7 linked regions of the Homo sapiens genome follow. The protein of the gene in region 6 purifies or fractionates together with the protein of the main gene of each other region. This does not show direct contact. Each region holds a gene or a part of one and is shown on either strand. Other genes may lie near its edges.

The links.
Region 1: the proteins of DRG2 (region 6) and DDX55 fractionate together in Homo sapiens (co-fractionation; one large-scale study listed by BioGRID). This does not show direct contact.
Region 2: the proteins of DRG2 (region 6) and C5orf22 fractionate together in Homo sapiens (co-fractionation; one large-scale study listed by BioGRID). This does not show direct contact.
Region 3: the proteins of DRG2 (region 6) and RSBN1L fractionate together in Homo sapiens (co-fractionation; one large-scale study listed by BioGRID). This does not show direct contact.
Region 4: the proteins of DRG2 (region 6) and DNAJC2 purify together in Homo sapiens (affinity purification with western blotting; one study listed by BioGRID). This does not show direct contact.
Region 5: the proteins of DRG2 (region 6) and NT5C2 fractionate together in Homo sapiens (co-fractionation; one large-scale study listed by BioGRID). This does not show direct contact.
Region 7: the proteins of DRG2 (region 6) and UBE2R2 fractionate together in Homo sapiens (co-fractionation; one large-scale study listed by BioGRID). This does not show direct contact.

Annotation. Positions count from the first base shown.
Region 1 is NC_000012.12:123,612,099-123,615,598, forward strand, and holds part of DDX55 (ATP-dependent RNA helicase DDX55), read left to right. Parts: intron 1-1,022; exon of another isoform or gene 1,023-1,071; coding exon 1,072-1,154; coding exon of another isoform or gene 1,155-1,208; exon of another isoform or gene 1,209-1,867; intron 1,868-3,086; coding exon 3,087-3,218; intron 3,219-3,500. UniProt on the Homo sapiens protein: Probable ATP-binding RNA helicase. Has ATPase activity and is involved in the maturation of precursor large subunit rRNAs.
Region 2 is NC_000005.10:31,552,427-31,555,553, reverse strand, and holds the end of C5orf22 (UPF0489 protein C5orf22), read right to left. Parts: intron 2,782-3,127; coding exon 2,652-2,781; 3' UTR 501-2,651; downstream 1-500.
Region 3 is NC_000007.14:77,694,971-77,699,258, forward strand, and holds the start of RSBN1L (lysine-specific demethylase RSBN1L), read left to right. Parts: upstream 1-1,488; 5' UTR 1,489-1,499; coding exon 1,500-2,085; exon of another isoform or gene 2,086-2,375; intron 2,376-4,288. UniProt on the Homo sapiens protein: Lysine-specific demethylase that specifically demethylates methylated lysine residues of proteins.
Region 4 is NC_000007.14:103,334,768-103,338,267, forward strand, and holds part of DNAJC2 (dnaJ homolog subfamily C member 2), read right to left. Parts: intron 3,045-3,500; coding exon 2,969-3,044; intron 1-2,968. UniProt on the Homo sapiens protein: Acts both as a chaperone in the cytosol and as a chromatin regulator in the nucleus.
Region 5 is NC_000010.11:103,099,273-103,102,772, reverse strand, and holds part of NT5C2 (cytosolic purine 5'-nucleotidase), read left to right. Parts: intron 1-1,446; coding exon 1,447-1,538; intron 1,539-1,670; coding exon 1,671-1,728; intron 1,729-1,808; exon of another isoform or gene 1,809-2,021; intron 2,022-2,091; exon of another isoform or gene 2,092-2,110; intron 2,111-2,753; coding exon 2,754-2,847; intron 2,848-3,500. UniProt on the Homo sapiens protein: Broad specificity cytosolic 5'-nucleotidase that catalyzes the dephosphorylation of 6-hydroxypurine nucleoside 5'-monophosphates.
Region 6 is NC_000017.11:18,086,780-18,090,747, forward strand, and holds the start of DRG2 (developmentally-regulated GTP-binding protein 2), read left to right. Parts: upstream 1-1,168; 5' UTR 1,169-1,244; coding exon 1,245-1,308; intron 1,309-3,968. UniProt on the Homo sapiens protein: Catalyzes the conversion of GTP to GDP through hydrolysis of the gamma-phosphate bond in GTP. When hydroxylated at C-3 of 'Lys-21' by JMJD7, may bind to RNA and play a role in translation.
Region 7 is NC_000009.12:33,911,160-33,914,659, forward strand, and holds part of UBE2R2 (ubiquitin-conjugating enzyme E2 R2), read left to right. Parts: intron 1-804; coding exon 805-939; intron 940-3,500. UniProt on the Homo sapiens protein: E2 ubiquitin-conjugating enzyme that accepts ubiquitin from an E1 ubiquitin-activating protein, and catalyzes its covalent attachment to other proteins by an E3 ubiquitin-protein ligase complex.

The sequences.
Region 1 (3,500 bases), on a different chromosome or scaffold from region 6:
CTTTTTTGAGTGCCAACATGATGCTGAGAGGAAATACTCGGAGCATTTTGGATTTCGGATTTCCAGATTAGGGATGCTCAGCTGGTAAGTATAGTGCAGCTATTCCAAAATCTGAAAAAATTCAAAAGCCAAAAAACACTTCGGGTCCTAAGGACCTTGGATGAGGGATACTTGTACTACTGTTAGCTTTGGACACACTGTGGCTACTGTTGCATTCTGTTATTTTGCATTCGTTTTGCATTTAGAGATGGCTGAGTACATGAGAAAAAATTCCAAACTGGGGATTTGGTTTTGGTAAAAATAGGATGAATGCATTCAGGTGAATTTAATGTCTCTAATTTGGGAGTTTGAATGGAGGACTTGATTGCATTATGAAGAAAAGCAGTGGGGTCTGCGTCCATGGAGGCCTTTTAAATAATGATGTACATTGCTTTCTGGAAATCAGTATTCACCTTAGAGCAGTGACTTCTGAACTTGGCATCAGAATTTCCTGGGGGAACTCTTAAATAATAGGGATTCTTAGGTTCAATCTCAGACCTACTGAATCAGAATCTGTATGTCGTACCCAAGAATCTGCATTTAAAAAAAAAAAATCTATCCTTTGGCTGGGCGAGGTGGCTCACGCCTGTAATCCCAGCACTTTAGAGTTGAGGTGGGAGGATCGCCGGATGCCAGGCCAGGAGTTCGATACCAGTCTGGGCAACATATTGAGAGTCTGTCTCTTGAAAAAAAAAAAAGAAGAAAAAAAAAGGTAAATAAATAAAAATCTACCCTGGAGATGGTGTAATGGCTGGCATGTATATTGGGATTGGGAGTTGGGAACTGTTGCCTGTTGGATGACTGTGTTTCTCTGAGCTATATGATTTTGTGACATACAAATTAACTTTTACAGGCAGCAGCACATGTTGATATTTATTCTGAGCTAGGTAGACCAGTTAACATTCCGACTAAAGTCTGTCCTACCCATGGGGGAAATGACATTCCTTAAAATTTAATGCTGAAACTGAAAATAGCCATGGGGATTATTATTGCCAAATATGTTTTTTATTAGTTTCCCTTTTTATTTTGCAGGTATGCAAGGCAGATGAGAAATTTAATCAGCTGGTCCATTTTCTTCGCAATCATAAGCAGGAGAAACACCTGGTCTTCTTCAGGTACTCCTCTGGTCTCTGTGGTAGAGGCATCAGGGATTCAGCCAGAATGTGCAGGTGCATGCGGCCTTTGGGTTTTGGATTCCATCTAGCATGGTTCTCTCCGGAATGCTTTTGGCTGCAAATAACTGAAAACCCAACTTTTGTTGTCCGAACAAGGTTGGCTTTATTTTTCTCCCGTAAAAAGTCGTCCAAAGGCAGGCAGTTTCTCACATGGGTTTCATGTGTCAGTCATGTCAAGGTCAATGTTGATGTGATTGGTCTTCTCTTCCTATGTGTCACCTCATGGATTCTGGATGACCACTATTACACCCTGTCATGTCTCCACTGAAGAAAGATAAGGGGGGAAAGGCAGAGGGGGCTTAGGGCAATGTTAGCTATATCCATGCCTTTTAATCAGGAGAGCAAAGAGCTTCTTCAGAAACCCCTCTGCCCTAGTTGACTTCAGCTGTGAATTCATCTTAGGGGCCAAAAGTGGGTCACGTGGTGGCCCCTCACTTCAAGAGCAGCAGAGAAAATGAGTGCGCAGCTTTTCTGCCTCTGTAGTAGTGGCCAGTGAAGCAAGAAGTGGTTGGGAATAGTGTTTATCAGCCACCCATGGAGTCCGCCACAGTGGGGTTTTGTCCTGTGGTCAGAAGGCAGCGTAGGGACAGATGCATATGTTCTTTGGACTGGTTGGTTCTTTTCCCCTTTTCTCCAGAGATAAATGTGTTGATCTTTAGTAGTACATAAAAAATAATTTTATATTTATTTATATATTTATATTTATAATTTCTTTTCTATCTGTTATCCTACAAATAAAATGCAATATTGACCATGACCCACAGTAAGAAGTACAATTTGGTACACACCCAAACAAGACAATAAAACAAAGGTTTTCATGAAACTGCACCCTGCTAGGTGGGATGTTTTCTATTCTGTTCTACTCCAGCTGTTAATTTTTTTAAAATGCTGGTCGAGACCCACTAAATTGATTTCAGAACCCACCAGGTCTGTGGGTTGTGAGGCTTAGTGTGTGAAACACCACTTCATTACATACTATGTGACTCAAGGTGGAAAAGAGCGGTCACAGCACAGGTGGAGGGACTGAAGTAGACAAGAGTTAGCCCAAACTGGAATGCAGTAGTGCAGTAGTCTGGTCTAGTGGGAGGAGCATTAGACCTGGGTTCTGGTTCTGCCACTTACTCTGTGTCTCTGGTAAGTTTTAGTTCCCTCATCTGCAAAAGGATGGGAAGTCACTTGGGAATGCTTCCAGTTAAGGAAAAGGGTCCAGGGTGAACTTTATTAGAAGGGTGCCGGGTAAGGAGCTCACAGATTCAGAGAATGTTGAGTGTCCAGCTCCCAGGGAAGGAGGCTCCCTGGCAGGAGTTCATGGGCCATCTCTTTAGGGCATATCTTTATTGGGATGACTGCCAACCCCTTTTTGTCTTTGGATGACTCAGCTCCAAGTCCCAAATATCTGGGAGAAGGGATCTGACTGGCCTAGCTTGGGTTATTTGCTGAGCCCTTGGGAATCCTGCTAATTGGGAAAGAAGCAGTTCCCTAAACGGAAAGCAGAAATGTTTTTAAATCTTGTAACACTATTTGTGGCTAAGATGTCATTGCTTTTGTTCTGAATGACTGTTTCACTTTAATTCCTTTCTCGGGGTCAGGGAGATTTCCCGTGAGAACATCTTTAGACAGTAAAATATGTCCTTGGGGGTTTTAATTCATGTTTAAGGGATTTTGTCAAAAGATTGGCCTTTCATTGGCTGAGAGGATTACAGATTGAGAACTCAGTTGTGGATGATTTCCACTGCCATTTTCCTTGTCATTCCCCTAGGGAGGGCTTGTAGTTAGGTTGCGTCTGCTGCAGCTATTGCTCACTGTTCCCCTCTCCCGGTTGTAGAAGGACCAAAGTGGCCAATGACTCTAAGCCCTCTGTCCCTCTTGCAGCACCTGTGCCTGTGTGGAATACTATGGGAAGGCTCTGGAAGTGCTGGTGAAGGGCGTGAAGATTATGTGCATTCACGGAAAGATGAAATATAAACGCAATAAGATCTTCATGGAGTTCCGCAAATTGCAAAGGTGGGTGGGCTTCATTGAAGGTAGCAGCTCTCCTGCCACACTGCTCTTTCAGGTCCCCAAATGCCCCATTCTCTAGTAGCCTGTGCTGTCCGCATGTGTTGTCTTTCCTGCCTGGAACCCTCTTCCCTCTCTAATCTGGTTATCACATCTCTGTAAACACCCCGAGCCTCCATTGCCCTGTTCCAATTGCTTTGCCTTTTGCTATGTCATTTCCCTAGTTACTGAACTTCTGTGCTAGACAGCAGGCTCCGTGACACAGGAGTCCTGTGTATTGTCTTCACT
Region 2 (3,127 bases), on a different chromosome or scaffold from region 6:
GCTCCTTGAGAAGCTAGAACACATAAAGACCCGTGCCTATAGGAAATATTTCTTTCTTTTTTTTTTTTGGAGACAGAGTCTGTCTCCGTCGCCCAGGCTGGAGTGCAGTGGTGCGATCTTGGCTCACTGCAAGCTCCGCCTCCTGGGCTTCCGCCATTCTCCTGCCTCAGCCTCCGGAGTAGCTGGGACTACGGGTGCTTGCCTACACGCCTGGAGAATTTTTTTTTTTTTTGTATTTTTGGTGGAGACGGGGTTTCACCGTGTTAACCAGTATGGTCTCGATCTCCTAACCTCGTGATCCGCCCACCTCGGTCTCCCAAAGTGCTGGGATTACAGGCGTGAGCCACCGCGCATGGCCAACTATAGGAAATGTTTCTAAAGAGATCTAAAATTGACAGTCAAAAGGTTATTATGAAAGGCTGGACTTAAATTTTTTCCCCGTAGATACTAGGAAATACACAACTTATTAAGTTAAAGTCTACGCTTACACTTAAGTCACATTTTTTAAAAAGCCACTAAAATCCCATGCTTTAATGATATTAGTACACAATTCAAAACACTGTACCACGGTATCCCCTCACTGGTACTCAGAACACAAATGAAACACATCTTGATAAAGTAAATACCTTCCTATTTGGAATGTGCAAGACATAATTTACTAAGTTGATTCTTTTCAACTATTAGGGACTGAATTTTATTCTCAAAGAGATGATCACAGAACATGAGAATTAAACAAACCTTCCTATAAAAGAAATGGATGCTTTTATTCAACCTGAGTTAAAACCACAATGAATCATATCAGAGTTCATGGGAATCATAATAAATGACTAGTAAACCACTCACAAAATCAAAGCTATCAACATACTAGGATCACACACATTAATTAGTGCTATAGTTCAAAACATACCCTTTAACTTATTTAGCACGCAAAATAATCATAAAAGTAATGTCTATAAGCTCTAACCAAAAATTTTAAAAATTAAAAATAGCACAATTCTACAATTCTGATTTTACCAAGAAAATAAACCTTTTTTGGCACATATTATCCTATGAAAATGGAAAGCTGAGTCAGGCTGCTCTGCTTTTCACAGCACAAATAAGCATTCATGCTATCAGACTTGGGAAATTAACTCGGTGACAAAAATTCACTGGAAAATAGAATCCTTGGAAAAATGGGGTCAGGTGCCATCCACTGTGAGGCAATGATAATGTGTGTCCTTCGTTATTAGCACAAAGTTAGGCAGCACACTATAATTTTAGCTACATGCAACTCTATAGGAACACATGTGGGTAAGGCCTGAAAGTTACAAGCAAGAGTGAAAAGAACTGCTGTGTTGGGACTGAGGAATGATGGGTGTTTGTTTTTCTTTAAATGTCATTTCACCTTTTAAAGGAAAATAAATCAAGTAGGTAGGTAAAAATTACTGAACTAAAGAGATACTAAAGATCAGAAGACTGGCCAATTGAGAAAATCAAGTTTCATGATTAAGAGTGACTCAGGAAGGATGTCTTAGTTATGAGGGGGGTGGTGGAAGACAGTTTATATCTTTGGGTATTTATGGCAGGTCAGAATTAAAGATTTAACTTTTTCCCTTACTCTTTACATAAAAAGCTGGTTTATCTGAAAAAAGTATCAATCTAGACTTGGCAATAAAGTGGCACTTAGGCACTATATTATTGATATCTACAATGACCTCCTGGATGCACAAGAGACCCTGAAGGGCTTTTTTGATCAGCAAAACAAAAACAGAAAAGCAAAAAACAGTTAATTTTTGTTTGGTCAAGTTTACTCAACCAGACCACCTTGATACCAACAATGCTGGAGAGCATTTGGCAAGAGCAGGGCCACAATGCCAAATTCCTTGGAAAGGTAGACTTCCTATGATACTTTCATGGATTGGCAAATTTGTGGGGTTTTTTTGGTAGTAGCTTTTGAGAATGTTAGTTTCTGGCTGGGGTAGTGACTTACATCTGTAATCCCAGCACTTCGGGAGGCGAAGGCAGGTGGATTGCTTGTGCCCAGGAGTTTGAGACCAGCCTGGGTAACATGGTGAGACCCCATCTCTATTTTTATAAAATTAAAAAAAAAAAAAAAGATAGAGAATGTTACTTTCCTATAAAGCCATGATACCCTAAGTACTAAGACATGTCTGTTGTTGTCCTTTCCTTCATAACATTTCTCATAACCCGTAATTTACTTCTCATCTGTCTCCCCTAAAAGGGCAGGGGCCTTGTCTATTCTGTTCATTACCATATACCCAGCACTTAATAATGTCTGGTACATGTAAGTGTTCAACAAATATTAGTTGAATGAATAAATGAAGTATGAATGAATCTCATACAGCTCAACAGACCTGGGGGAAAAGTGAAGACAAACAAACAAACAAACAAAAAAAAAAACAAAACCCTAAAAAATACTTAAGGAAGACAGATAAGCAACAGTTCTATCAGTTGGGGTTATGAGACTTGATGCCAAAAAATTTACCATCATTCACAACTGACAATGGTTGTTCAGAGATTCAAAATATCTGAAAGATTTCAACTGAAAGTTAATATAAAACAGTGTTCTCTGGAAGACTCATGTACAAATAAGTTAATTAAGGGCCTGTTACTAAACCAAGATACAACAGGAGCCTAATGTTTTGTTTGTTTCAAGATGGAGGAGACTCTGCTGCATACACTTGGAGGTCTAGATTTCCATAGAGGGCACGTAGCATATTGAGGACCTTTTCTTGAATAGTGTCAACTTGGTCAGAAGGACAGTAATCATCCAGACTTGACCTAGAACCAACAGAAAGAGAAAGAAGAAAAATACACATAGGATAAAATCATACTGTGAGGAAAAGCTGCATGTGTTCATTTCAATGTAAAACAGAAATTAAGGTGTGCTGAACTTTGGATTAATATCAATTGAAAGCTAGTGAAGGTTTACCCCATGTTAGTCACCTTACATAAATTATGTTCTTTAATTTTCACAGCAACTCTATGAAATAGGCACAATTACTATCCCTTTAAAGAAATCTGAAAGAGATTAACCTGTGCAAGGTGACATGCGGTGTGTGCCTTAATGCTTGATTGCTAGACCATTGTTTGCCTGAAAGTGAGATGTTGCTTGGGAATACAGGGG
Region 3 (4,288 bases), on a different chromosome or scaffold from region 6:
CAAAACATCGAACACGCAGTGTGCTTACTAAACGCTAAAATACAGAAACCTAAAAAAACAATTCTTGCTTTTCAAACATCCATAAATAATCGCCAACGAATTTTTCCTGGCAAGTCTACGTTATAATAATAATAATATTATTATTATTATTATTATTTTTTGAGACGGAGTCTTGCCCTGTCGCCCAAGCTGGAGTGCAGTGGCGCAGTCTCGGCTCACTGCAACCTCCGCCTCCTGGGTTCAAGCGATTCTCCTGCCCCAGCCTCCCCAGTAGCTGGGATTACAGGTGCGCGCTTCCATGCCCAGCTAATTTTTGCATTTTTAGTAGAGACGGGGTTTCACCATGTTGGTCAGGCTGGTCTCGAACTTCTGACCTCGTGATCCGCCCGCCCCGGTCTCCCAAAGTGCTGGGATTACAGGTGTGAGCCACCGCGCCCGGCTATAATAATTATTATAAAATTCAAATCTTAAGGCCGCACATGGTGGCTCACGCCTGTAATCCCAGCACTTTGGGAAGCGGAGGTGGGCCGCTCACCTGAGATCAGGAGTTCGAGTCCAGCCTGGCCAACATGGTGAAACCCCGTCTCTAATAAACACAAAAATTAGCCAAGCATGGTGCCGGACGCCTGTAGTCCCTGTTACTGGGGAGGCTGAGGCAGGAGAATCGCTTGAATCTGGGAGGCGGAGGTTGCGGTGAGCCGAGATCGCGCCACGGCACTCCAGCCTCGACAACAGAGCAAAACTCCGTCCCAATAAATAAATAAATAAATAAAATAAAAATCTTAAGGGTCTAGTCACAACAGTTCAAAAGTCTCCAAAGGGAGACTCTCACCTTCAAGCTTGTAAGTAATACTAAAGTTCTAGATTTGCTGGAAGTTATCTCCTTCAATGGATTACAGCACATGATCTAGCAATAATAACGTACCTTGTCACCACATCGAATGATTTTGAACACTTCCCATCAATCGACTACCGACTAACAAAAAGAAGGACTTGATTCCCGGCAATTTTTTCTCTTCTGAACTGAGCATTCCCGAAATCCAGCTTGCTGAACGCGCAGATGCAGGGTGAGAGGCACCCCAGGAAAAATGGAAGGGAAAGTGGTACAAGTTAAAACAGTCTTCGTGGCCGCAGAGACGATCGCTACCTCGGCCATGGCAGATCTGGGGGTCCGGGGCGGGGGTTCTTCCCTGATACCCACCGGGCACGCGAGTTCACGCCAGCGACAGTGGAAAGCCCTCCCCTCGCAGCGCGCTCCGCCACTAGCCGCACCCCGCCGAGCTCTGACCTCCGAAGAGGGTCCCTGTGGCGATCCCGCCCCTTCGTCTGATGTTTGTGCCTTTGATTGGCTCTTAGGTGGATCCCTCAGCGTGGCTTGCCCAATGGAGCAATGCCGGCTGGTGGCCTGGCCGCTCCGCCCCTTCCCTACCCCTCGCGGAGGGCCCGCCCCCTGCCCCGCGCCGGCTAGCGGAGGAGAGTAAATACAACAGGAGCGCAAAATGGCGGAACCGCCGAGCCCCGTGCACTGTGTCGCTGCCGCGGCCCCCACCGCCACCGTCTCGGAGAAAGAACCGTTTGGCAAGCTGCAACTCTCCTCCCGGGACCCTCCGGGTTCTCTGTCCGCCAAGAAGGTCCGGACTGAGGAGAAGAAGGCACCGCGGAGAGTGAACGGAGAAGGGGGCAGCGGCGGGAACAGCAGGCAGCTGCAGCCGCCGGCAGCACCTTCGCCTCAGAGCTATGGCAGCCCCGCGTCTTGGAGCTTTGCCCCTCTGTCTGCTGCTCCCTCCCCGTCCTCTTCTCGGAGCAGTTTCTCTTTCTCCGCTGGCACGGCCGTTCCCTCCTCAGCCTCCGCTTCCTTGTCTCAGCCGGTGCCGCGCAAACTGCTGGTCCCTCCTACGCTGCTGCACGCTCAGCCTCACCATCTCCTCCTGCCCGCCGCCGCCGCCGCTGCCTCGGCTAACGCCAAGTCGCGCAGACCTAAGGAGAAGCGGGAGAAGGAGAGGAGGAGGCACGGTCTCGGTGGGGCCCGAGAGGCCGGCGGGGCCTCCCGGGAGGAGAACGGGGAGGTGAAGCCGCTGCCCCGAGGTGGGTGCCGTGCGGGGAGGGGGAGGGGAGGGCGCCGTGGGTCCCCGCCGCCCCCTGGCGCCCACGGGGCCCGGGAAGGGGGAGCGCGGCGGCCGCGTGCGCCGGCCTGGAGGGGCTGGGAGGCGTCCGGTTTTCAGCAGAGGATTTTGCAGTTCCCAAGGGGACAGGAAATGGAGCCTGTAATTTCGGTTGCAGAGAGGGGGATGGCCGACACTCTTATTTTCTGTATCGTTTCTTCCTCCCAGTTAGTGCGCTGCAGGATTTGTGAAAATCCATCTTGAGGACTCTCCTAGGTTTGTTTGGCTAGGGAGAGAGATGGAGGGAACGGGATGGGGGAAGGGTTTGGTTTTGTAAAAGATGCTTGATTGATTGTTAGACCACTTAGACGTGGTCGCGGGAATTCGTATTTGTGACACAGCGTTCAACCCCGGATAATCCTGTCAAAAAAGGGGTGTGGAGAGAGCACTGGCGTCAGCTGGAAGCTACCAGAGGCCTGAGCTTTTCATCCCTATTAGGGAAATGAGGTAGCGTGCAGGGCCCGAAGTGCGCTGTTTCGTAAGGTACCCTCCCTGCACCCTACTCTCCGCTGCGTATTCTTAAGTGTTTTGGGTGGTCCTGTTTGAAATACCACCCTTCTGAAAGAATTTTCAGCCATATTCTTTTTTTCCCTGCAGCAAATGATAAAACCAGGAGCTTTGACGATTTTTCGCCAGATCAAGCGGCTGCAGAATGTTTGAGCATTAGAAAAAGGCGAATTCTTAAGGGTTCTTGTCAGACAGGGTCAGTTTTGTTTTTAAATGTAGGCTAGTCGTATAATTTTTCAGGTGTTTCCACCACTTCAGCTACGGATACACAATGATCTGACAATAGTGCAACATACGGACTAGTTGAAAATCAAATCTTTATGTGATCGCAAGCTTAAAGCGCATAATCTTTATTATAAATGTGCACTGCTACACAGTGTTGTCAAATAACTCTTTTTGTTTTTTAGAAAAAGAAATGTCAAGCAGTTTCAGCATTGCTGATCTAACAGTAGCTCAGATCATGAAAAATTCTGTTTGGATTATAATGGTTTGTTTTCACAACTTAAAACATGCTGCATGTGCATGTAGCAATAGTGTCACTTCTTCCTTGATATTTTTTGCCTGTAGCAAAGCTTTAACATCTAAGCATAGCCATCAGGGACTCTGGTGCAATGTAAATATCTTTCAGCTTCTGGGAGTGTTGTTTCTAGGAAAGTGGTTTTGAGGATGGGATTTTGGTACTTTTAGTCAGGAATTCCAGGTGATTAGTATTTTAAAGCTATTTTGTTTTAACAATTTATATGTAAAATTTAGGAGATAAGTGCCTGGAAGTTTGTCCATATGCAGCTTGGTATCATCACTAGTGTTTGTGGTGTGTAAACTGCACATTTGCTGTAAGTTCTCTGAAAGAGGAAGTGAATATGAGTATTACATAGTTGGAGTAATGGAATATTTGAGAAGAAATAAGTAAGCATTCTTTAACAATTCTAACTTAAAATGTGGAGTACACAAATGGTCCTTAAAGTGAAATGGCTGTTAAAGAGGAATTTTTATAGTCTTTTCAATTACATTTAGAATCCTTCTTCTTTTGAGGGTTAACACTAATATTATTAATCCTGAATATAAACAGTGATAGGTTTTACATTAAGATGTGGGAATGATCTTTTCCCATGACCTATGTGGGTTTTTTGGAGTAGTGACAAGATATTAACACTACTGTAAGATTTTCATTTTTTCAGACACAAATGCTATCTTGTTGAGGAAAAACTATCAGAGAAAAAGATTCCTTTCCAGTGTCTTGGTGGTAAATTTAATGGTGAAAATTTTTCCCTCGTAACTTGGGGAATACTTATATCTTTCTAAAGTTTGGATTTAACTGAATTGATGTTCTGTTTTAACGAATTAAGAAGATTCTTAAATAGCGGTATTAACAAGTGGTATAGCAAGAATACATATATGCCTTTATTATAGATATAATTGCAAATATGAAAGTCCTGATTTGCAATACAATGATCATTTCTCTGTGCTTTTTGTAAAAATCTTAGTGAATGGGTGACCAAGTGTTTGTTTAGGTATATACCTCTTTTTAGTGTTGCCCTAAGTTGGCTGTGCATGGTTCAGTAACCCCTCAATTATCCACAGCTGGCTGATTGAACAGTCTGAGTCAGAACCAGACATTA
Region 4 (3,500 bases), on a different chromosome or scaffold from region 6:
GCATAATAAAATTATTTATTTCAACATATACTGCAAGGGTTCAGAAACAGTGACAAATATTTTTGGTATTTTTTTGGGCATTTTTTGAGGCAGTTTCCCTCTGTCACCCAGGCTGGAGTGCAATGGTGCAATCTCGGCTGGCTGCAACCTCTGCCTCCCAGTTTCAAGCGGTTCTCGTGCCGCAGCCGCCCAAGTAGCTGGGATTACAGGCATGCGTCTCCATGCCCGCCTAATTTTTATATTTTTAGTAGAGACGGGGTTTCGCCATGTTGGCCAGGCTGGTCTCGAACTCCTGACCTCAGGTGATCCACCTGCCCCAGCCTCCCAAAGTGCTAGGATTACAAGTGTGAGCCACCGCACCCGGCTCCTACTTCACACTTAATTAATTTTCATTACTGACATTCAAAATATACTCAACAAAAATAAAACTTTGCTTGTAATATGAAGCAAGCATTCAAAGGACATCAAATGGTACCAGATTTACATTTTTATTAGGTTTGTGCTAATAATTATAGATTTGCAAACAGTAACTTTGCATTTTAACTTTTAGATAGATTTTCAGAAAGCAATGAGTAGCAACTGTGTTTTACAGTGACAGAGGTGAGAGAATGACAGTTTCTTTCTAAATAAAGACTGACGGAATATTCCACAAGGGTGGTAGAGAGTAAGTTAGAATTACCCTTATTGTTAACAATCTCTACACTGGTGCTGCAAAATTTTTGGCTAGAGAATACATATTCAAAAGCTGAATTTCTTTTCTTTCTTTCTTTCTTTTTTTTTTTTTTAATGAGACAGAGTCTCACTCTCTCACTCTGTTGCTCAGGTTGGACTGCAGTGGTACAATCTTCGCTCACTGCAACTTCCGCCTCCCAGGTTCAAGCGATTCTCATGCCTCAGCCTCCCAAGTAGTTGGGCTTACAGGCATGCGCCACCGCACCTGGCTAATTTTTGTATTTTTAGTAGAGATGGGGTTTCACCACATTGGCCGGGCTAGTATTGAACTCCAGCCTCAAGTAATCTGCCTGCCTTGGTCTTCCAAAGTGTTGGGATTACAGGTGTGACCCACTGTGCCTGGCTAAAAATCAATTTCTACAAGGCCAATAAAAAGAGTGGATTTAGGCTGGGTGCGGTGGCTCACGCCTGTAATCCCAGCATTCTGGGAGGCCGATGTGGGTGGATCACCTGAGGTCGGGAGTTCGAGACCAGCCTGACCAACATGGTGAAATCCCGTCTCTATGAAAAATACAAAATTAGCCGGGCGTGGTGGCACATGCCTCTAATCCCAGCTACTCAAGAGGCTGAGGCAGGAGAATCGCTTGAACCTGGGAGGCGGAGGTTGTGGTGAGCCAAGATGGTGCCATTGCACTCCAGCCTGCGCAACAAGTACGAAATTCTGTCTCAAAAAAAGACAGTGGATTTAACAGAAGCATATGAATGCTTCTTTTACAATTTATTGCACATTTTTAATCTTCTGAGAAAGAATTCTTTCACCTTAAAACACAAACTATTCTCACAGTTCTATTATCAATTCTAATTAACAAATTTATCTGTACTAAGACATATTTGGTATTTGTATGCTATTCTATTTTTTCGGAAACAGAGTGTCGCTCTTGTTGCCCAGGCTGGAGCGCAATGGTGCGACCTCGGCTCACTGCAACCTCTGCCTCCTGGGTTCAAGCAATTCTCCTGCCTCAGCCTCCCAAGTAGCTGGGAATACAGGTGCCCACCACCACACCCAGCTAATTTTTTTGTATTTTTAGTAGAGACGGTGTTTCTCCACGTTGGCCAGGCTGGTCTCATATTCCTCACCTCAGGTGATCAACCCGTCTCGGCCTCCCAAAGTGTTGGGATTATAGGCGTGAGCCACCACGCCCGGCCAATGCTATTCTTTCGTATAGTAAAACTTTGCAAACACTTGTACGTGGCAAATGGACTTTTCTGGCATTTATTTATACTGGAATAACTATTCACATGCATTACCATATGCTTTGTCTAGACTCATGCCAGCCTTTAAACAAATCCAGTTTAAAATAATCTGATAAATTCCTTCACTTTGTTAAAAAATATTTCCTGTGATTTTCCTAAATGTAAGCAGTAATGGGGACGATTTTGAGTTCATCTACTATGCTAAGTATTGACTAATAATTTTTACCACAGGCATTCTTATTCAGTCATCTTCCTCCACATATAATACTTCCTCTTCTTGACAGGCCCTGACTCCCTGCTCCTTTTCCATGTGGCCACAATCTTACCCTCTCTGACCTCAATATCCATTCTCTAGAGTGGAGGGCAGAACATTCTCCTAAGATAGAAAACTGATCACCTTCACCTCTTACCTCTTTCACTAAACTTTATTAATCAGTTGAACTGATCACGTGTATAAGAAATTATGTCCACAGGATTGCAAAGCATAGGACATTTAGGAGCATTAAGGGATGGTGTTTTATAAGGCATATGAAGACTGGGGTCCCAACATTACCCTCTCCCATGCCAAATTATAACCTTGTCAATGAAAACAACAATAAAACATCAGACAACTTTTCTTGGACAGAAGACAGGGTGATATCTACAAAGGTGTGACCTAAGATTACAAAATAACGTAAAAAAAAAACCAAAAACCAAAAAACAATAAAAAGGCAGTATCCACTAAGTGCAGCTGCTATACTTCTAAAGAGAGGTGAAGTATTATTTTTTAAAAGCTTGCCATTGGAGGAGTATTTTGTATCCACACACACACACCCATCCTAATTTCTTATCCCTAATGGGAAAGTCTATATGTAAAATGGATTGCTTTCTTCTGATTCTGAAGGCAGGGGAGACCGTGGTTTTTTGCTTGTTATGACAATATAACACATGCTGTTAAATGTAGTTATGGCTGCAGACTATGATACTGTATATCTTTTAAAAAGCATAGCCAGCCTGTTCCTATACAAGATATTTGATTATTTCAAAATAACTAAGTACTTACGAGCTGCTTTGATCTGTCTCTGTGTAGCCTTGTATCTCACATGGCCAAGTCCAAGAACTGCATAATGATCTTGGTTCTGGAAAAAAAACACAAAAGGGAGTCAAATTTGAAATGAAGCCAATATATTCCATCCCTTGTGTTCTGGTACCTTAATAAGCATTTCCCAAAGTGACATTTCATCAGGAGTCCAGTAAGAGGTTCTGTATAAACCAGGGTCTATGGTCAGGTAAGGTTGAGAAATGTGGATTAGGCTGGGTGCCATGGTTCATGCCTGTAATCCTAGCACTTTGGGAGGCCCAGGTGGAGGATTGCTTGAGCCCAGGAATATGAGGCCAGCCTGGGCAACAAAGTAAGATCTCTGTCTCTACAAAAAAATTTTTAAAAATTAGCTGGGTGTGGTGGTGTGCACCTGTAGTTCCAGCTACTCAGGAGGCAGAAGTAGCAGGATTACTTGAGTCTAGTAAGTAGAGGCTGCAGTGAGCTGTGATCATGCCACTGCACTCCAGGATAGGCGACAGAGCAAGACCCTGTC
Region 5 (3,500 bases), on a different chromosome or scaffold from region 6:
CTCACATCACTTCTTATCTAGTTTTCATATTTCTGTTCATCGTACCAACCACCTCTCAGAGACACCTTAGCATGGACATCATCATCTTTGACTCTTTAATGTTCCCCCAGCCAAATCTGCTCAGTTTGCCGGGTCTTATTTTACCTTGGTAATCTCTCTTGAATATATGAGTGAGCTGAGATCACGCCACTGCACTCCAGCCTGGCCGACAGAGTGAGACTCTGTCTCAAAAAAAAAAAAAGAAAAAAGAAAAAATTCTGAGAGTCAACTGGGTGATTCTGGGTTGCACAGCTGATCTCTCTATGCTCTTTCACATGTCTGTGGTTAGCTGGTGGGTGACCTGGCATCTGATCTACAATGGCCTCATGCACATGTCTGGCATTCACAGGCTGTTGGCCGAGTGCTTCATTTCTACATGTAGCCTTCTATCCTCCAGCAGACTATCTCACTGTCATGCACATAGTAGTCCATGGTTCCAAGTGCTGCAAGAGAGATTAAGCCTCAATACACACATGTTTTTCTAGGTCTCTGCTTGGATCCCATTTGCTGCTATACAAGCCTATATTCAAGGATAGAGAAATAGACTGAGTTCTAATGGGAGGAGCCACAAAATTGCATCACAAAGAGACAGGAAGAATTTGTGGCCATTGTTGGAGTGCATCACATTGTCTTTCCCCAGTTTATCCTAAAACAGCCACTAATTTAATTTTGTTTTACAACTCAGCCCCGATGGGATTATCCTCTGCTTTAAAACTGTCAGTAGTACCCTCTTGCCCCTAAATGGTGTAGAAACAGTAGCTTAATCTGCCTCAACCCATCTTTCTAGCTTAATTTTTCTCTGCTCCCCTTTCTCTACCCAAGTTGGACTAGTTTCACAACTGGTCCACCTAGCCTTTAAGGCCCAGCTCATATACCAGCACGTGCATGAATCCTTCCTAGATTTTCCTCTCCTTAGTCCTCACATTTGCTTCTCTCTACCTCTTAAGTTGAAATGGTGTTCCCTTCTTTGGTTTTCTCATAAATGTTTGCACCTTTCTTGTAGTAGTTGTGATTTTTTACCTTATAATTATATGTGTATGTGACCCACCTCGCCCACCACACTGACAACTCTTTTAAGAGCTGGAACCTAAGCTGGACATCACACCTGTAATCCCAGCTACTTGGGAGGCTGAGGTGGGAAGATTGCTTGAGCAATCTTCAGGAGTTTGAGTCCAGCCTGGACTTAAAATAGCAAGACTGTCTTAAAAAAAAAAAAAAATTAAAATTAAAAAAAATAAAGAGCTGGAACCTGAACTCGTTCATCTTCATAGCTATCCATGCGTAATATTCGGAATTCTGTCTTGCACATAGCCATCAAAATATTTGAGTTAATTTTTGAATAATGCTATTTCCCAATTATTATAATGTTATTTTAAAAATCAGTTAATTTTTAAATTTTTCTTTCAGACCAGAAACTAGAGAACAGTATCCAAATAAATTTATCCAGCGAGATGATACTGAAAGATTTTACATTCTGAACACACTATTCAACCTACCAGGTAGATTCATTCTATGCTTATTTATACTGATGCTTTCCCTTCTGTGACCATTAGTCTGTATTCAAGGGAGGTAATGAAATAAGTTTGAATTATTTCATTATAGCTTATGAATATCTGTTCTTCATTTTTCAGAGACCTACCTGTTGGCCTGCCTAGTAGATTTTTTTACTAATTGTCCCAGATATACCAGGTATGTATATACTATAATTATTTTTTTCCAATTGATTTTTAAAATTAATGCACAGGGTTTTAGAGAACTGGCCATTGTAGGTCTTTTCTGCTTTTCTAAAGTGAATTTAGTGCTAGTGAGAGATGCCACATTGCCAACCTGAGAGATGGGACAGCACCAGCAGCTCCATGCAGGCTCTCACCTCCCACACGGCCCCTCTCCTTGCCAGTGTGCTGCAGCCACCACTTCTGATTGGCTTCTCCTGGGAATGAAGACGGCCAGCAGAGGTGCTAATTGTGACAACTGAGTGGGAGGTTTGTGTGATGATTATCTGTCCAAGCAGAATTACACTAAAACCCCCCAACTCATTTCACAGCAGCTACCCAGGAGCCATTCAGGGATGGTAATTTAATTTCATTCCCAGGCCAGGCAAGATTTGATTAAGGAATAAATACTGTGTATCTTATCAGAAGTAAAATTTTGCGTAAGTCTTAAACAAGTTATCCTCTCCCTTTAGGGAGAATTATATAGCCAATACTGAAAGTTTAGCCATCTATATACCAGAGTTGGCTAACTTCTTATCCTCTTTGGGCTTTATCCACTTGAAGACACTAAATTTGGTGGAAAGCTGAGTCACTGAACTAAATAAAAAAATGGACAGTACCTTTGTACTTAGGGACAGTGTCAGGAAAGTCAGGGTGGAAAGAACCTAAATGACCAATTTTAAGTTTTAAATGTTTCTTCAACCTGTTTCTAAAAAGTGATAAATAAAAAAACCTGACATTTTTGGAACTTTGGCCTTTTAGCTTCCATTCAATATATTCTTCTATCACTTTGTATTTGTTCACAATTACTGTATTCCATTGAACACTATAGCCATTTCTGGTGGTCAAAGTGGACTTTCATTAGGGAGTAATTATTTTCCTCATTAGCCACAGCCTTTACCCATGTGATATGGAACCTTTGGGTCCCCTGGGAAATTTTTGATATATATTTTGTTTACCCTGTTTTGGATCCCCTGTCATGTTATTTTTATCTTTCTGTAGTTGTGAAACAGGATTTAAAGATGGGGACCTCTTCATGTCCTACCGGAGTATGTTCCAGGATGTAAGAGATGCTGTTGACTGGGTTCATTACAAGGTACCTAGAAGCTGTTTCTTCACCTGCTTGCTTTCTGGCATGTATTTTATGGCGTGGCATTAACTTTCCAAATGGAGCAGAATATTTCTTTTTTTAAAAAAAGAAAAAACAGATTTGCCCCCGCCTAGTGATAGCCCTCTAGAATACATTTGTTCTTGTCTTTGGTCTCGGTGGTAATGTTGATCTTTCCTCAGTGATGGTGTTTGGCTTCTGGATTTTATTTTAGTTTGCATTTCTCAAACTTAGAAGAGGTTTTAGTGTATTACATTATACTTAACATATCCTTTGTGGATGACAGTGGTCCATTTTTTTTGTCCAGATACCTCCCACCCGACTAATAACATTAATAAATATTAAATTTACATGTATTATAAACTATTGAATAAAATATGAAATGCCTTTTAATTTCAAACTTAAAATAGAAACTGTTTTATATTTTGAAGACAAATTTTAGAGGCAGGGTTGCAGCAAATCATACCTGCTACTTTTTTCTGGCCTTCTCTAGTTTGTCCACTTTTCCATTTTGGTAAATCCTTAAGAAATGCATTTGGGGCTGGGCATGATGGCTCATGCCTGTAATCCCAGCACTTTGTGATGCCAAGGCAGGTGGATTGCTTGAGCTCAGGAGTTCAAGACTAGCCTGGGCAACATGA
Region 6 (3,968 bases):
CACCTGAGGTCTGCAGCCACATGTGGCCCAGGACCACTTTGAATGTGGCCAAACACAAATTCGTAAACTTTCTTAAAACATTATGAAATTTAGGCAGGGCACAGCGGCTCACGCCTGTAATCCCAGCACTTTGTGAGGCTGAGGCAGGCAGATCACTTGAGGTCAGGAGTTCGTGACCAGCCTGGCCAACATGGTGAAACCTCGTCTCTACTAAAAATACAAAAATTAGCCGAGTGTGGTGGCACGCGCCTGTAATCCCAACTACTTGGGAGGCTGAGGCAGGAGAATCACTTGAACCCAGGAGTCGGAGGTTGCGGTGAGCCAAGATCACACCACTGAACTACAGCCTGGATGACAAAGTGAGACTCCGTCTCAAAAAAACAAAACTAAAACAAAGAAAAAAAAACTGAGGTTTTTTGTTTGTTTGTTTTTTGAGATGGAGTTTCGCTCTTGTTGCCCAGGCTGGAGTGCAATGGCGCGCAATCTCCACTCACCGCAACCTCCGCCTCCCGGGTTCAAGCAATTCTCCTGCCTCAGCCTTCCCAGTAGCTGGGATTATAGGCGCGCGCCACCACGCCCGGCTAATTTTGTATTTTTAGTAGACATGGGTTTCTCCATGTTGGTCAGGCTGGTCTCGAACTCCCAACCTCAGGTGATCCGCCCGTCTCGGCCTTCCAAAGTGCTGGGATTACAGGCGTGAGCCACCGCGCCCGGCCAAAACATTGAGGGTTTTTTTGGCGATTTTTTTTTAAGCTCATCAGCTATCGTTAGTGTTGGTGTATTTTACGTGTGGCCCAAGACAATTCTTCCAATGTGGCCCAGAGAAGCCAAAAGATTGGACACCTCCATTTATAGTATAAAATGAAAGCCACTAGGCTTTCGGCTCAGCCCCTTTTCCTTACACTGCCAGTCAGCTGCGCTCAGGGACCCGCAGTTCAGAGTTCAACACGGGCAGATTCCCTCTCTTCCTTGCTTGCTCCTGCCAGCCGCAGCCGTGGGCCAGTACAGCATGGCCCGGCCCCGCCCCGGCTCTTTCCAGAGGTCCGCAGCCTGGCCGGCCCAGCGGGCGGAACCGATAGTGTCTGGCACTTGGCTCGCCCGGACTCTGAATCCTGGAGCACCAGGCGCCCACGAGAACGCTGTTCTCTTTGGCTTCCGGGCGCACGCTACTCTGTCGCCGCCGTCAGACCGGAATTGCCGGTGCCGCCGCCACCGCTGTCTGTGCGCCCACCTCTGCTGCTACCATGGGGATCTTAGAGAAGATCTCGGAGATCGAGAAGGAGATCGCTCGGACACAGAAGAACAAGGGTGAGGGCCGGCCGGGCGGGGCCTTCCTTTCTGCCTGCCTCAGTTTTCCTGTCTGTAAAATGGGGGAACAACTCCAGCAGTAATGCTGGGGCAAGATCCGAGGCCGCGGAGAAGTTGCCAGACAAGTGCCGAGGCCGCCCTGCGCGCCCAAGGCAGGGCCAGGCGGGAGCGGGTCTCACGCCCAGGTCTGACTGCAAACGTACCCCAAGAGATCTGGTCAGTCCCAGACCGTGTGCCCGAGTAGAGTAGTCCCAGCTCACAGAGCAAGCATCTGACCCAGAGAGAGGCGGAGCTGGGGTTCAAACCTCAGTCTCCTGATGGCTGGGCCTGGGGCCTGGGTCTACTCTGTTGTTTTGGGAAGTGCAAGAGGAGACCTCTCAGGAACAGCCTCACCCAGCAGCTGAGAGCCCATTGGAGCAAGGGAATCAGGACTCTGGAGTCTGGAAGGCCTGGGTTTGAGCCCCAGGTCCACCACGTACCTTCTGTAAAACATTGGAAAGTCACTTCATTTCTTGGAGTCTCAGTGTCCTCATCTGTAAATGGGGTAATACTCCCCTGCTCCATCTTAGTACACAGCTGAGTTAAATTAGATGGCCTTTACAAAGCACTGGGCACATGGTGAGCACTCAGTATTTAAAGTAAACACCCCAACATAGATAATACATAATGAAGCCTCAAATCTGGACTTTAGAATGTAAGGGCTGGAGGAGCTCACAGAAGAGAGGTGAGGAGAGAACGATGACACCAGGACAAAGTGGGACTTGAGCTGGTTGTTGGAAGGGTATCCCAGGTGGGGGCCACTGCTGAGACAAAGACATGGGAGTGAGCATGGTATGTTCATGGGACAGTGAGAACAATCTAGATCAGAAGGGGGTTATGGAAGAGTAATGGGAGATGCAATTGGCCAGGCTAGTGGCTAGCCATTCAGGCTTGTGGGAGCAGGAAGCAAGCAACACTAGATAGCTGGTCCCAGTGTCTGCCCTCCCTTGGTTCCATTTAGGTTTGAAGGCCAAGGAGTTGAGGGCCCTCTATGACTCATTCCTTCTGTAAATCTTTTTTGTTTGTTTGTTTGAGACAGTCTTGTTCTGTCACCCAGGCTAGAGTGCAGTGGTGCCATCTGGGCTCACTGCAACCTCTGCCTCCCAGGTTCAAGCGATTCTCCTGCCTCAGCCTCCAAATAGCTGGGATTACAGGCACGTGCCACCACACCCGGCTAATTTTTGTATTTTTTTAGTAGAGAGGGGGTTTTGCCATGTCGTCCAGGCTGGTCTCAAACTCCTGACCTCAGGTGATCCACCCGCCTCGGCCTCCCAAAGTGCTGGGATTACAGGCATGAGCCACCGTGCCTGGCCGATCTTTCCTGAGCCTTTACTATGTGCTAGGCACTGTGGTTAAAGCAGTGAACACAGCAGGCATATCCCAGCCCTTGGATCTGATCTTCTAGTTGACGGTCTGAAAACTAGAAATCAAATAAATAAGATAATGTCAGCCAGCAATATGTGCTATGAAGACAAACCAGGGTGATACAGCAGAATATTGGGGGTGGGGAGGGACTGGGGATTGGGTCTGCTTAGGTGGAGTGATAGAGAAGACCACCATGAGGATGGGGCATTTGAACTAAGACCTGATTGAAAAGAAGGAACCGGTCACGCAAACATCTGGGGGAAGAGGGTTCCTGGCAGAAAGAGCAGCTAGTGCAAAGGCCCTGAGGCAGGAACAAACTTGGCTGTTTACAGGTCAACAGGACTGGGGCTGGGGTGCAGTGATGGGACAGGAGGGGGTTGATCATGCAGAGCCATAGGTCATGGGAAAGACTCTGGGTTGTGTTCTAAGGCAGTGGGAGCTGGTGCAGGGTGTTAAGCAGGGGAGGGGCTATTCTGACTTCTGTCTTGAAAGTTCCCTCTGGCTGCTGTAATATTCCATATTACCCATAAGACCCAAGGAAAGTCACAGGGAGGCTAGAGATGCTGCCACTTTGGCAGTAGTAGACAAAGGAGATATAAAGGTGATTAAGACCTAGTCCCTCCCTTCAGAGATGCTCAGAATTTTAGGAGCTGGGATGACAGGAAGGGCCATGTGTACCTGACTGACACTGAATCCTTTTTTTTTTTTTTTTTTTTTTTTGAGACAGTCTTGCTCTGTTGCCCAGGCTGGAGTGCTGGAGTGCAGTGGTGTGATCATAGCTCACTGTAACTTCAAACTCCTGCATTCGAGCAATCCTTCCACCTCCACCTCTTGAGTAGCTGGGACTACAGGTGTGCACCACCACACCGGGCTAATTTATATATATATATATATATATATATATATATATATATATTTTTTTTTTTTTTTTTTTTTTTTTTTGAGATGGAGTTTCACTCTTGTTGCCCAGGCTGGAGTGCAATGGTGCAATCTCGGCTCACCGCAACCTCCGCCTCCCAGGTTCAAGGGATTCTCCTGCCTCAGTCTCCCAGGTGTGTGCCACAACGCCCAGCTAATTTTGTGTCTTTAGTAGAGACAAGGTTTCTCCATGTTGGTCAGGCTGGTTTCGGACTCCGGACCTCAGTTGATCCGCCCACCTCGGCTTCCCAAAGTGCTGGGATTACAGGCGTGAGCCACCCCACCCGGCCAATTTTTATGTTTTTTGTAGAGGCACGGTCTCACTATGTTGCCCAGGG
Region 7 (3,500 bases), on a different chromosome or scaffold from region 6:
GCACTTTGGGAGGTTGAGGAGGGCGGATCACCTGAGGTCAGGAGTTCAAGACCAGTCTGACCAACATGGAGAAACCCCATCTCTACTAAAAATACAAAATTAGCAGGGCATGGTGGCAGGCGCCTGTAATCCCAGCTACTCGGGAGGCTGAGGCAGGCAGGAGAATCGCTTGAACCTGGGATGTGGAGGTTGCGATCACACCATTGCACTCCAGCCTGGGGAACAAGAGTGAAACTCCATCTCAAAAAAAAAAAAAAAAAAAAAAAAAAAAAAAAACCTGGTTATATAGAATAGCATCATTTTTACCAGCTCCCACATCAAGATTGCCTTGAAACTAAATATTTTAAGCTTTTTCCCCCATGCCATTTAATTTGTAATTTTTAAAATAAACAGTATTTGAAAGCTTCTAAGACATCTGCTTTCTGTAGGTTGGAACATGTGACCAGTTGAAACAGGGCCTTCTATCAAGTTCATTTTTATGCTTTGTGCATTACCCTTATACTAGAATCACTTGTGCATTACCCTTATACTAGAATCACAGATTTCCTCTGCTTTGCCTGCCAGTTAGCAGCTTGTTTCTTAGTGCTGAAAAAAATTTTTTTTTATTTTTCTTAAATGCCTTTTATGAAAACTATCAATAAAAAATTTATATCTCTATTCCCCCAAGGTCTTAAATTTAATTGTATCAGAAAAATTTTAAGGGAGGGAGAATTTGAAATCTGATTGTACTATCTTAAAAAGCAGAATACTTTTAAATACTGTAAATATGGGTATTCATAGCTGATCCTTTTTTCCTGTTTCTAGGACTATCCTATTAAGTGTAATCTCACTGCTTAATGAGCCCAACACCTTCTCCCCAGCCAATGTCGATGCTTCAGTTATGTTCAGGAAATGGAGAGACAGTAAAGGAAAAGACAAAGAATATGCTGAAATTATTAGGTAAGGTTTTTTTTTTTATTACCTCAAGTTATACAAAACCAAAATATATTCTGGAACCAAGGGTTTAAATCAAACTTAAATATCCTGTCCATTCCAGGATAATTTTCCTCTATTAGATTTATAGTGTGGGAAGAGAAGATTTCTGCCTGAGCCTAAAGAACTTTGCTGTTTACCGAGAGAACAGCCACTAGAAGATAAGGCAGTAGCAGACCTGATTTTCTAGGAACCAGAACTTCTAGGTTCTGGCCAGGCATGGTGGCTCATGCCTGTAATCCCAGCACTTTGGGAGGCTGAGGCAGGCGGATCACCTGAGGTCAGGAGTTCGAGACCGGCTGGCCAACATGGTGAAACCCTGTCTCTACTAAAAATACAAAAATTAGCCAGGTGTGGTGGTGCACACCTGTCATCCCAGCTACTCAGGAGGCTGAGGCAGGAGAATTGCTTGAACCCGGGAGTTGAATGTTGCAGTGAGCTGAGATCACACCACTGCACTCCAGCCTGGGCGACAGTGCGAGACTCCATCTCAAAAAAAAAAAAAAATTGAATAAATAAAGCCTTCCAGTTTATTGGCATTCCTGACCATAGCAGCAAGGATTGTTTGGAAATCCTCATTATCAGCAACACTAATGTATGGTATAACAGAGCCCTAGAATAAGATTCAGGGGACTTGGAATCTACTCATGGGACCATTTATCAGATAATTTTTGGGGTCTTTTACTTTCTCCTCTGTATAAAATGGAAAAAAGCTTAACCTTTAATCTCTTAGGACATCAGGTTCTTATAATAGTACCCAAGAAATTTGCAATAAATACAAACCCTACACTTCCCCTACCCTCCACCTCTTTTTTATTTGTTTCTAATTAATTTTTTTTTTCTTTTTGAGATGGAGTCTTACTCTGTCATCCAGGCCGGAGTGCAGTGGTGTGATCTCGGCTCACTGCAGCCTCTATCTCCTGGGTTCAAGCAATTCTCCTGCCTCAGCCTCCCGAGTAGCTGGGATTATAGGCGCCTACCACCATGCCCAGCTAATTTTTGGATTTTTAGTAGTGACAGGGTTTCACCATGTTGGCCAAGCTAGTCTCGAACTCCTGACCTCATGATCCACCCGCCTTGGCCTCCCAAAGTGCTGGAATTACAGGCGTGAGCCACTGCACTCAGCCTCCTCCACCTCTTTTTAAAGAAACAGACATGGTCTTACTCTGTTGCCTGGGCTGGAGTGCAATGGTGTGATTACATGGTAACTTCAAATTCCCGGGCTCAGGCAGTCCTCCCACCTGGGCCTCCTGAGTAACTAAGACTATAGGCATGCACCACCACACCCAGCTAATTTCTATTATTATTTTTGTAGAGATGAGGTCTTGCTGTGTTGCCCAGCCTGGTCTTGAACTCTTGGCCTCAAGTGATCCTCCTGCCTCAGCCTCCCAAAGCTCTGGGATTATAGGTGTGAGCCACCGTGCCTGGCCTCCACCCCCCTTGATATTACATTTTTATTTCTTAAAATAGAGACCCCAAATACAGTTACAGCTTCCTCTGTGCATAGGAGTTGACTAAGCATTGGCATTTATACAAATAAGAATAAAATCTAGTTGGCTTGAGACCATGTGATATGAAAAAAGTTAAAACAATGCTGGGAAAGGACATGAGGTGACTGCTGAGTAATATAAAATCAGCAGTTCTAAGTTTTCTGCCCATTGGGATCACTTTTAAACTGTCCCTAAACAATAGCTGTCTTTTATGGGATTACAAGGACAGAGTTTGGGCATCTGTGTGTGTATATATATCTCACCTAGGTGACTGATGTGTACCAAACATTGAAGATAATTAGTAGAAATATTAAGATCCTACAGAAATTTAGAGGAGTGGGAGTGTACTAAGGATTGAAAGATCAGAAAGCTTAGGTATACATATTCCCAAGGTACTTCTATATATTTCTTAATTTGTTTAAGGGTCCGTTTATCTCATTCTATCTATTCCTTAATGACCTAGTACAGTACCTGACACTAAGCAACAGCTTTGTGTTAGGTACTCATTAAGGCATAGCCTGTCTCCTTAGGGAGCTCACTTTATTAGCATTTGAAAACAAATGACCATGTAGTATTATACCTATAGAAGCCTAAACAAGATACACTGGGAGAAATATATAATGTAATAGATTTCCTAGCAGAGATAATTCCTTATAACCAATACTTTTTCAGGTGAAAAAAGGGAAAATACCCATGTTTGCTAAAATACAGGAGTATAACAGCATGACATGTTAAGGGGATTACAAATGCTTGAGTGTAAATTCTGATGTGGGAAATATTAGAAAATTAAGCAAGAGAGGCACCAGGGTCTTCAAAGACATTGAAGTCATGATAAGAGTATGGTTCTTAATGTAAGAAGTGATGGGGTACCACTTAAATATTTTTGGGAGGGAAGAGGTGATGCTATTTGAGTTCTGATAAAAGAATTGGCTGCCTGGTGTGGTAGCTCACACCTGTAATCCCAACATTTTGAGGCGGGTGGATCACCTGAGGTCAAGAGTTCGAGACCAACCTGGCCAACATGGTGAAATCCCATCT